2 separate regions of the Homo sapiens genome follow, and region 1 is linked to region 2. Evidence: fine-mapped expression QTL. A gene starts in region 2. The other region holds a variant in brackets. All regions are shown on one strand. Distances are between the middles of the regions.

Evidence for each region. PIP is the estimated chance that this variant, and not a neighbour inherited with it, causes the effect.
Region 1: its variant is fine-mapped to the expression of UBE2E1 in whole blood (TOPMed, PIP above 0.99).

What each region holds. Positions count from the first base shown.
Region 1 is chr3:24,078,559-24,082,945 of GRCh38, reverse strand. No RefSeq gene overlaps it. Among named protein-coding and RNA genes, the nearest start is that of LINC00691, 22 kb to the left of the region's middle. The variant A/C (reference allele first, on the strand shown) is at 1,637.
Region 2 is chr3:23,803,314-23,807,700 of GRCh38, reverse strand. UBE2E1 (ubiquitin conjugating enzyme E2 E1) reads right to left here and starts at 1,746. Exons shown (of 6, transcript NM_003341.5): 1 at 1,613-1,746; 2 at 280-464. The coding sequence starts at 431. UBE2E1-AS1 (UBE2E1 antisense RNA 1) reads left to right here and starts at 796. Exons shown (of 2, transcript NR_046652.1): 1 at 796-882; 2 at 2,987-3,677. RefSeq lists an enhancer at 231-320 and silencers at 621-800, 1,001-1,300, 1,491-1,620, 1,701-1,810.

The DNA.
Region 1 (4,387 bases), 280 kb before region 2:
AATGGGCTAAATGCTCCAATTAAAAGACACAGACTGGCAAATTGGATAAAGAGTCAAGACCCATCAGTGTGCTGTATTCAGGAAACCCATCTCACATGCAGAGACACACATAGGCTCAAAATAAAGGGATGGAGGAAGATCTACCAAGAAAATGGAAAATAAAAAAAAAGCAGGGGTTGCAATCCTAGTCTCAGATAAAACAGACTTCAAACCAACAAAGATCAAAAGAGACAAAGAAGGCCATTACATAATGGTAAAGGGATCAATTCAACAAGAAGAGCTAACTATCCTAAATATATATGCACCCAACACAGGAGCACCCAGATTCATAAAGCAAGTCCTGAGTGACCTACAAAGAGACTTAGACCCCCACACGATAATAATGGGAGACTTTAACACCCCACTGTCAACATGAGACAGATCAATGAAACAGAAAGTTAACAAGGATATCCAGGAATTGAACTCAGCTCTGCACCAAGTGGATCTAATAGACATCTACAGAACTCTCCACCCCTAATCAACAGAATATACATTCTTTTCAGCACCACACCACACCTACTCCAAAATTGACCACACGGTTGGAAGTAAAGCTCTCCTCAGCAAATGTAAAAGAACAGAAATTATAACAAACTGTCTCTCAGACCACAGTGCAATCAAACTAGAACTCAGGATTAAGAAACTCACTCAACACCGCTCAGCTACATGGAAACTGAACAACCTGCTCCTGAATGACTACTGGGTACATAATGAAATGAAGGCAGAAATAAAGATGTTCTTTGAAACCAACGAGAACAAAGACACAACATACCAGAATCTCTGGGACACATTCAAAGCAGTGTGTAGAGGGAAATTTATAGCACTAAATGCCCAAAAGAGAAAGCAGGAAAGATCTAAAATTGACATCCTAACATCACAATTAAAAGAACTAGAAAAGCAAGAGCAAACACATTCAAAAGCTAGCAGAAGGCAAGAAATAACTAAAATCAGAGCAGAACTGAAGGAAATAGAGACACAAAAAACCCTTCAAAAAAGTAATGAATCCAGGAGCTGGTTTTTTGAAAGGATCAACAAAATTGATAGACCCCTAGCAAGACCAACAAAGAAGAAAACAGAGAAGAATCAAATAGATGCAATAAAAAATGATAAAGGGGATATCACCACTGATCCCACAGAAATACAAACTATCATCAGAGAATACTACAAACATCTCTACGCAAATAAACTAGAAAATCTAGAAGAAATGGATAAATTCCTGGACACATACATCCTCCCAAGACTAAACCAAGAAGAAGTTGAATCTCTGAATAGACCAATAACAGGCTCTGAAATTGAGGCAATAATTAATAGCTTACCAACCAAAAAAAGTCCAGGACCAGAAGGATTCACAGCCGAATTCTACCAGAGGTACAAAGAGGAGGTGGTACCATTCCTTCTGAAACTATTCCAATCAATAGAAAAAGAAGGAATCCTCCCTAATTCATTTTATAAGGCCAGCATCATCCTGATACAGAAGCCTGGCAGAGACACAACAAAAAAAGAGAATTTTAGACGAATATCCCTGATGAACATCGATGCAAAAATCCTCAATAAATTACTGGCAAACCAAATCCAGCAGCACATCAAAAAGCTTATCCAC[A/C]ATGATCAAGTGGGCTTCATCCCTGGGATGCAAGTCTGGTTCAACATGTGCAAATCAATAAATGTAATCCATCATATGAACAGAACCAAATACAAAAACCACACGATTATCTCAATAGATGCAGAAAAGGCCTTTGACAAAATTCAACAACCCTTCATGCTAAAAACTCTCAATAAATTAGGTATTGATGGGACGTATCTCAAAATAACAAGAGCTATTTATGACAAACCCACAGCCAATATCATACTGAATGGGCAAAAACTGGAAGCATTCCCTTTGAAAACTGGCACAAGACAGGGATGCCCTCTCTCACCACTCCTATTCAACATAGTGTTGGAAGTTCTGGCCAGGGCAATCAGGCAGGAGAAGGAAATAAAGGGTATTCAATTAGGAAAAGAGGAAGTCAAATTGTCCCTGTTTGCAGATGACATGATTGTGTATCTAGAAAACCCCATCGTCTCAGCCCAAAATCTCCTCAAGCTGATAAGCAACTTCAGCAAAGTCTCAGGATGCAAAATCAATGTACAAAAATCACAAGCATTCCTATACACCAATAACAGACAAACAGAGAGCCAAATCATGAGTGAATTCCCATTCACAATTGCTTCAAAGAGAATAAAATACCTAGAAATCCAACTTACAAGGGATGTGAAGGACCTCTTCAAGGAGAACTACAAACCACTGCTCAATGAAATAAAAGAGGACACAAACAAATGGAAGAACATTCCATGCTCATGGGTAAGAAGAATCAATATCGTGAAAATGGCCATACTGCCCAAGGTAATTTATAGATTCAATGCCATCCCCATCAAGCTACCAATGAATTTCTTCACAGAATTGGAAAAAACTACTTTAAAGTTCATATGGAACCAAAAAAGAGCCCGCATCGCCAAGTCAATCCTAAGCCAAAAGAACAAAGCTGGAGGCATCATGCTACCTGACTTCAAACTATACTACAAGGCTACAGTAACCAAAACAGCATGGTACCAGTACCAAAACAGAGATATAGACCAATGGAACAGAACAGAGCCCTCAGAAATAATGCCGCTTATCTACAACTATCTGATCTTTGACAAACCTGACAAAAACAAGAAATGGGGAAAGGATTCCCTATTTAATAAATGGTGCTGGGAATACTGGCTAGCCACACATAGAAAGCTGAAACTGGATCCCTTCCTTACACCTTATACAAAAATTAATTCAAGATGCATTAAAGACCTAAATGTTAGACCTAAAACCATAAAAACCCTAGAAGAAAACCTAGGCAATACCATTCAGGACATAGGCATGGGCAAGGACTTCATGTCTAAAACACCAAAAGCAATGTCAACAAAAGCCAAAATTGACAAATGGGATCTAATTAAACTAAAGAGCTTCTGCACAGCAAAAGAAACTACCATCAGAGTGAACCTACAGAATGGGAGAAAAGTTTTGCAACCTACTCATCTGACAAAGGGCTAATATCCAGAATCTACAATGAACTCAAACAAATTTACAAGACAAAAAACAAACAACACCATCAACAAGTGGGCAAAGGATATGAACAGACACTTCTCAAAAGAAGACATTTATGCAGCCAAAAGACACATGAAAAAATGCTCATCATCACTGGCCATCAGAGAAATGCAAATCAAAACCACAATGAGATATCATCTCACACCAGTTAGAATGGCAATCTTTAAAAAGTCAGGAAACAACAGGTGCTGGAGAGGATGTGGAGAAATAGGAACACTTTTATACTGTTGGTGGGACTGTAAACTAGTTCAACCATTATGGAAGTCAGTGTGGCGATTCCTCAGGGATCTAGAACTAGAAATACCATTTGACCCAGCCATCCTGTTACTGGGTATATACCCAAAGGACTATAAATCATGCTGCTATAAAGACACTTGCACACGTATGTTTATTGGGGCACTATTCACAATAGCAAAGACTTGGAACCAAGCCAAATGTCCAACAATGATAGACTGGATTAAGAAAATGTGGCACATATACACCATGGAATACTATGCAGCCATAAAAAATGATGAGTTCATGTCCTTTGTAGGGACATGGGTGAAGCTGGAAACCATCATTCTCAGCAAACTACCGCAAGGACAAAAAACCAAACACCGCATGTTCTCACTCAAAGGTGGGAATTGAACAATGAGAACACATGGACACAGGAAGGGGAACATCACACACCGGGGACTGTTGTGGGGTGGGGGGAGGGGGGAGGGATAGCATTAGGAGATATACCTAATGCTAAATGACGAGTTAATGGGTGCAGAACACCAAAATGGCACATGTATACATATATAACAAACCTGCACATTGTGCACATGTACCCTACAACTTTAAGTATCATAATAATAAAATTTAAAAAAAGAAAAGAAAATACCAAAAAAATAAAATGAAAAGAAAAAGGCATTGTCATTTTAATGCTGTCTAAGACTCTTAAATTATTTTTAGTAAAATTAGAGTTAAACAGCAGCAGCATACTAGCTAAAGAAGAAATGTGTGACTTTCAAAGCCATAAAAACCTAGCTCCACAACACAGAAGATTTAGAGAGGCCTCAAGTAAAATATCTGACCTGATGCTTACTGTGTTAGTGACTTTGGACAAGCCATTTTAACACCCTTGAGCCTCAGTGTCTTCATCTGTAAAATTAAATTTTAAGTTGGCTCGTATGGCTATTGTGATGATTAAATGAAATTTTTACATATACTTTATATATTAAACTATCAACACAGTGCCTGGAGCATATTGTG
Region 2 (4,387 bases):
GAAATCAGATTTGGGGGTCACTAATAAAAGTAACGAGGAATCTTACAAACTTCAGCAAGAAATGCGAGAGGCAAGCCGCAACAGCTGCATGTGAGCAATGATTTAAAAACAGAAGCAGCAATAGAGAAAATAATTAGGGCTTCCAAGGCCCTTCTTTCATTTTTAAGAACACATAAACCATGAGGAGCGTTTAAGCTATCCTCATTGGGAGGCAGACCAAATGCAGCAAGAGGCAGTTCGGAAATAGGAAGCCTGTGGAAAAAAAAAAGAGCACAGTACCTCTTGGCGCTGGTGGAGAGGAGTTTGGAGTTTTTGCTCATGCTGACTTTACTCTCCTTCTTCTTGGGGGTGTTTGTTTCTTTCTCGGTTTGCTGGTTGGAAGACGAAGATGAGGAGGAGCTGGTGCTGGCCCTCGAATCGTCATCCGACATAGCGAACCCCCCACCCCACCCCGCAAACAGCCCCTGCAGGGGGAGAGAAACAAAACAGAAACACACAAACCATGCAGCCAGTGTAAATAAGGAACTCGGGTGCTGTCAGGAGGGCATTGACCAGGGGCGCACGCGGCCGCCCACCGCCCTCCACTCGCTTTTCAAAGTCTGCAGGCCCATTAAGGCTTTTGCAAATCGGACGCGGCTTGTTTATTTTTGGCCCCAAGTGGGGAACGCTGTGGGAAAACGGTCTGGAGCTAGGAGAGAGGCCCCTCCCTCGCCCCCCGGGGCTCTCCGCTGGGCAGGGAGGGAGTAGCCCGGGAGGCGAAGGAGGGCAGGGCGGGGGGCGCGGGGCGCCACGGCGGGGCAGGGAGGGAAGGTCCCGGCGGCCGGCCGGCCTCGGGGCTGTTTTTGTCCGCTTTCCGGGGGTCGTGAGGGGCCGGTGGCCCGGGTGAGACTGTGGGGCCACGAGCGGAGTTTGGCGAGGTCGGGAAGAGAGGAGGGGCGGGAAGGAGTAAGAGAGGAAGCCGAAACAGGGGGACGGAGGCGGGGAGCGGGTGCCCGGGTGGGGGAAGGGAGAGGCCGGCGGGGGGCAGGGGCGACGAGGCCCGAGGCCCCCCCGCGCCGCGCCCCGACGCCCCTCCCGGCCTGCCTGCCTCTGGCCGCCCTGCTCACAGCTATGCGGCCGGGCGGGGGTCCGGAGCACACGCCCGATCGCCACTCCTGTAGGGGGATAGGGGCTGCGGCGGGGAATGGGGGGGTCGGCCTCCGCAGCGAAGACATAACAATGAGCCCTTCCGCCCCGGAGGGGTTAATCCCCGCGAACCCCCGCCCCTGGGGAAAACGGGGCTCCCCCAACTCCCTCCCACCCCCGCTCCCGGGCCCCTCGGTGGCCAGTGGGGGGCTCTTGGGGCAGCGCTGACAGTTCGAGCCACAATGACCCCCGTCCTCAATGCGGGCGGCCCCCGCACCCCACGCGGCCCGGGGTCCCTGCCCATCCCCCGCGGGCGGGCCCCGGACCCCTGGGGCTCCCCAGCCCCTCTCCGCTCCCCCCCCGCGCCGGCCCCGTGCCCTGCGGCCCGGCGGCCCCGGCGGCGCGAGTCGGGGGAGGCGGCGAGGGGTGTCCCCGAGGCCCGGCGGCGCGGCCGGGGGGCGGCGGGCCGCTGGGGGGATCCCCGTACCTCTCTTTGTGTCTGGCTCCTCCGTGCCGCCGCGGCGGCTGCTGCTGCGGCTGCGGCTGGGCCTGGCCACTCGTGTCTCTCTCTCGCTGGGAGAGAAGCGGAAGTGCAGCAACAGCAACTATTAAACAGGCAATGGCTTCCCCCAGCCACACACGCTCGCACACACACCACTCCTCCGCCGCCGCCTCCTCCTCCTCCTCCTCCTCGCCCTCACCCCTCCCCCACCCGGCCCGGTCCCACCCACCCGCGCTCCCCTCCCCCTGCAACACCTCCTGGGGGTGCGCGAGGAAGACCCAGGAGACCCCAGGAAACCCTGTCCCCCACAGACACCCCCACCCCAGCGCCTCCTCCGGACGCCCGGGAAGGGGGCGAGGGTTGTGAATTTTCTCTTAAGTGGTTTGGGAACCTGGATTCTGGGCGGGAGAGGGGAAGCCGATGGAGATGGGGGGCGCTGGGAGTGATTGGAACTAGATGGAATAGGGGGGTCACGAGAGAAAGTTCTTTCCAATGAGGGCTTTTGGAAAGGAGAGGAGTAGGGAGGTGGCAAATTGGTGAAAACGTTGGTAATCTGGTGGTGGCAAAGACTTTAGAGAATGCAGCGGGTACTCCACCTAAAAAGCGATTAAAGAGAAAAAAAAAATCACACAACAAGGGTTTTCTTTGGACTGACACTTGCTTCTCCTTCTAGCAATTTACCTGCTAGGAGCAGAGGTCAGTTTAGGTATGCCTGTGAGAAAATCCCAAACTAGGAATTTTCTGCTCAGGTCACGCGAGGCACGTGCAGTTTTACAATATTAGATTCTTCCACTCACTTTTTATAGAAAGTGATGTGGTTTTTTATAAGAGTGATACAAAGGTTTTGGTGACAGGTAAAACCAACGTGTAACGGGCTTGCGAATGTGAGACATCACTGGGAATAAGCTATATACTACTGAATTAGACTGGATTTAGAATTTTTTGTGTCATTTTACATTAGATGTAAGGTTTGGTTTTTGGAAATTGGATGCAAAGTTCTGGGGATCGCAGAATCCCCAGATCGCTAAATTGACCAAATTATTTTTAAAATATTAAGCCATTTTTCTCTTTCTTTAGCTACCTATAAATGCTATGCAAATAATATTTTTGAAATGATCAGCAATTCTTCTGAATTGTTCCTTATTTAGCATTTTTGCCAATTTTTTTTTAATATTAAGCCATCAAATTACGATTCAGTTTCTCACCTTTTGTCATTTCAGTTGAAGGGAACTAAAGAGATGTGTGCCATTCAAATACAACAGTGCCACACATACAAGGTCTTGTACATTAAGGAGACAGCCTCAGATTTCCATAGGTCACTCTAAATTATCTCATTCAAACTGCCATCATTTTCCACAGCAACAGTGGCTTCAGTTACCACAGGACAACACAAGATATACAGCCCATGGCATATCCAGTAACCAGGAAAACAAGCATTCTCACGACCCAGCCGAACTCCTTCTAACCATCAACCTGAAATTCCAGCTTTATCAAGACTCATAAAGTAATTGTGCATGCTTCTTGCTCAATCCCTACCAGGAAACCTGTATCTACCAGGAGTTGTCATAGAATAAGAAGTTCAAAAGCTGGAAGAAATCTTCAGGGTCATAATTTCAGCCTCCTGCTTCCAGACAGAACTATTTCTCCACCACTGAAATGCATATAGATTTTGAAAAAATTTCCAGACATAACCTTTCTTAAGTGTTTGGTTTCAGGAGTCCTGGTAGAGTATATAAAAATGATGACATTCTTTGCTATATATTTGAAAAAATTTTTTAAACTTCTGAAAAACTGATTGTATTCTTTTTGTTCTGATGAAAAGATGTAAATTCAGAAGAAAACAATAAGAAGATGAAATAAACTCAGGATGAGGAAAATAATCTAAAAATAGTTATTAAAATTGAAATTTCCTCCTATGAAAATTTGGATTTCTGATACTTAAAAATATATGTCTACATTATGAATACAACCAGTAAAAAAATCATGTGTTATAAAGACAAGAACTAGCAGAGATCACAGGAAAATAAAAGGTTTGATTTGCTGAAGTGATCAGGACAGTAGGTGAATTTTTTCTTTAATATTGGTTTGCATAAATTGCCTACCAGCTATAATAAGAATTCTTTTGTAACAGAACATGATATTTTGTGTTGTGTTACTGATGCTTGGGTTGGACTGATTCCTTGTGAAAGAAATCATGAAATCTAACAGCTCCTCCTATAAGGAAAAGTGATTTCCCAACCACCTGTCTGGAAGGTTTCTTGCCCTCTTTTGTGTACTGTTCCCCCTAATCTCTAATTCCAGCTAGCTTAAGTTAGTGCTTTATCGTTTTGGAATGACCTGATGACAGGGAATAAAAACTTCAAAATGTTTAGAAAAGAATCCAGTCCTCTCAAAAGACTAATCTTTATGTCGAATTATTTTTAAGACCTGTATGCAGCTGTCTTAGGGGAAAAAAAATTCATACACAACTTTCTATCTCTCCTTCTTATTAACTACAAGGCCTAAAAAGCTAAATTGACCTCCCTGAGCCTCAGTTCCCTCATCCATAAAGGGCAGAAATACCTGTGCTCTACTGACTGGCAAGGTCAAATATGTATCTGTAAGTAAGGTGATTTATTAGCTGTTACGCAAAGTAAATTATTAATAATTCCACTCTAGTGGAATTTTCTTAGTTCATGGGTTTGGGGTTATTTGTTGCTTTTATGTTTTTGTTTTTCGTCACCAGGGCAGAAAAGAGGACATGGGGTTTTTATAACTTAG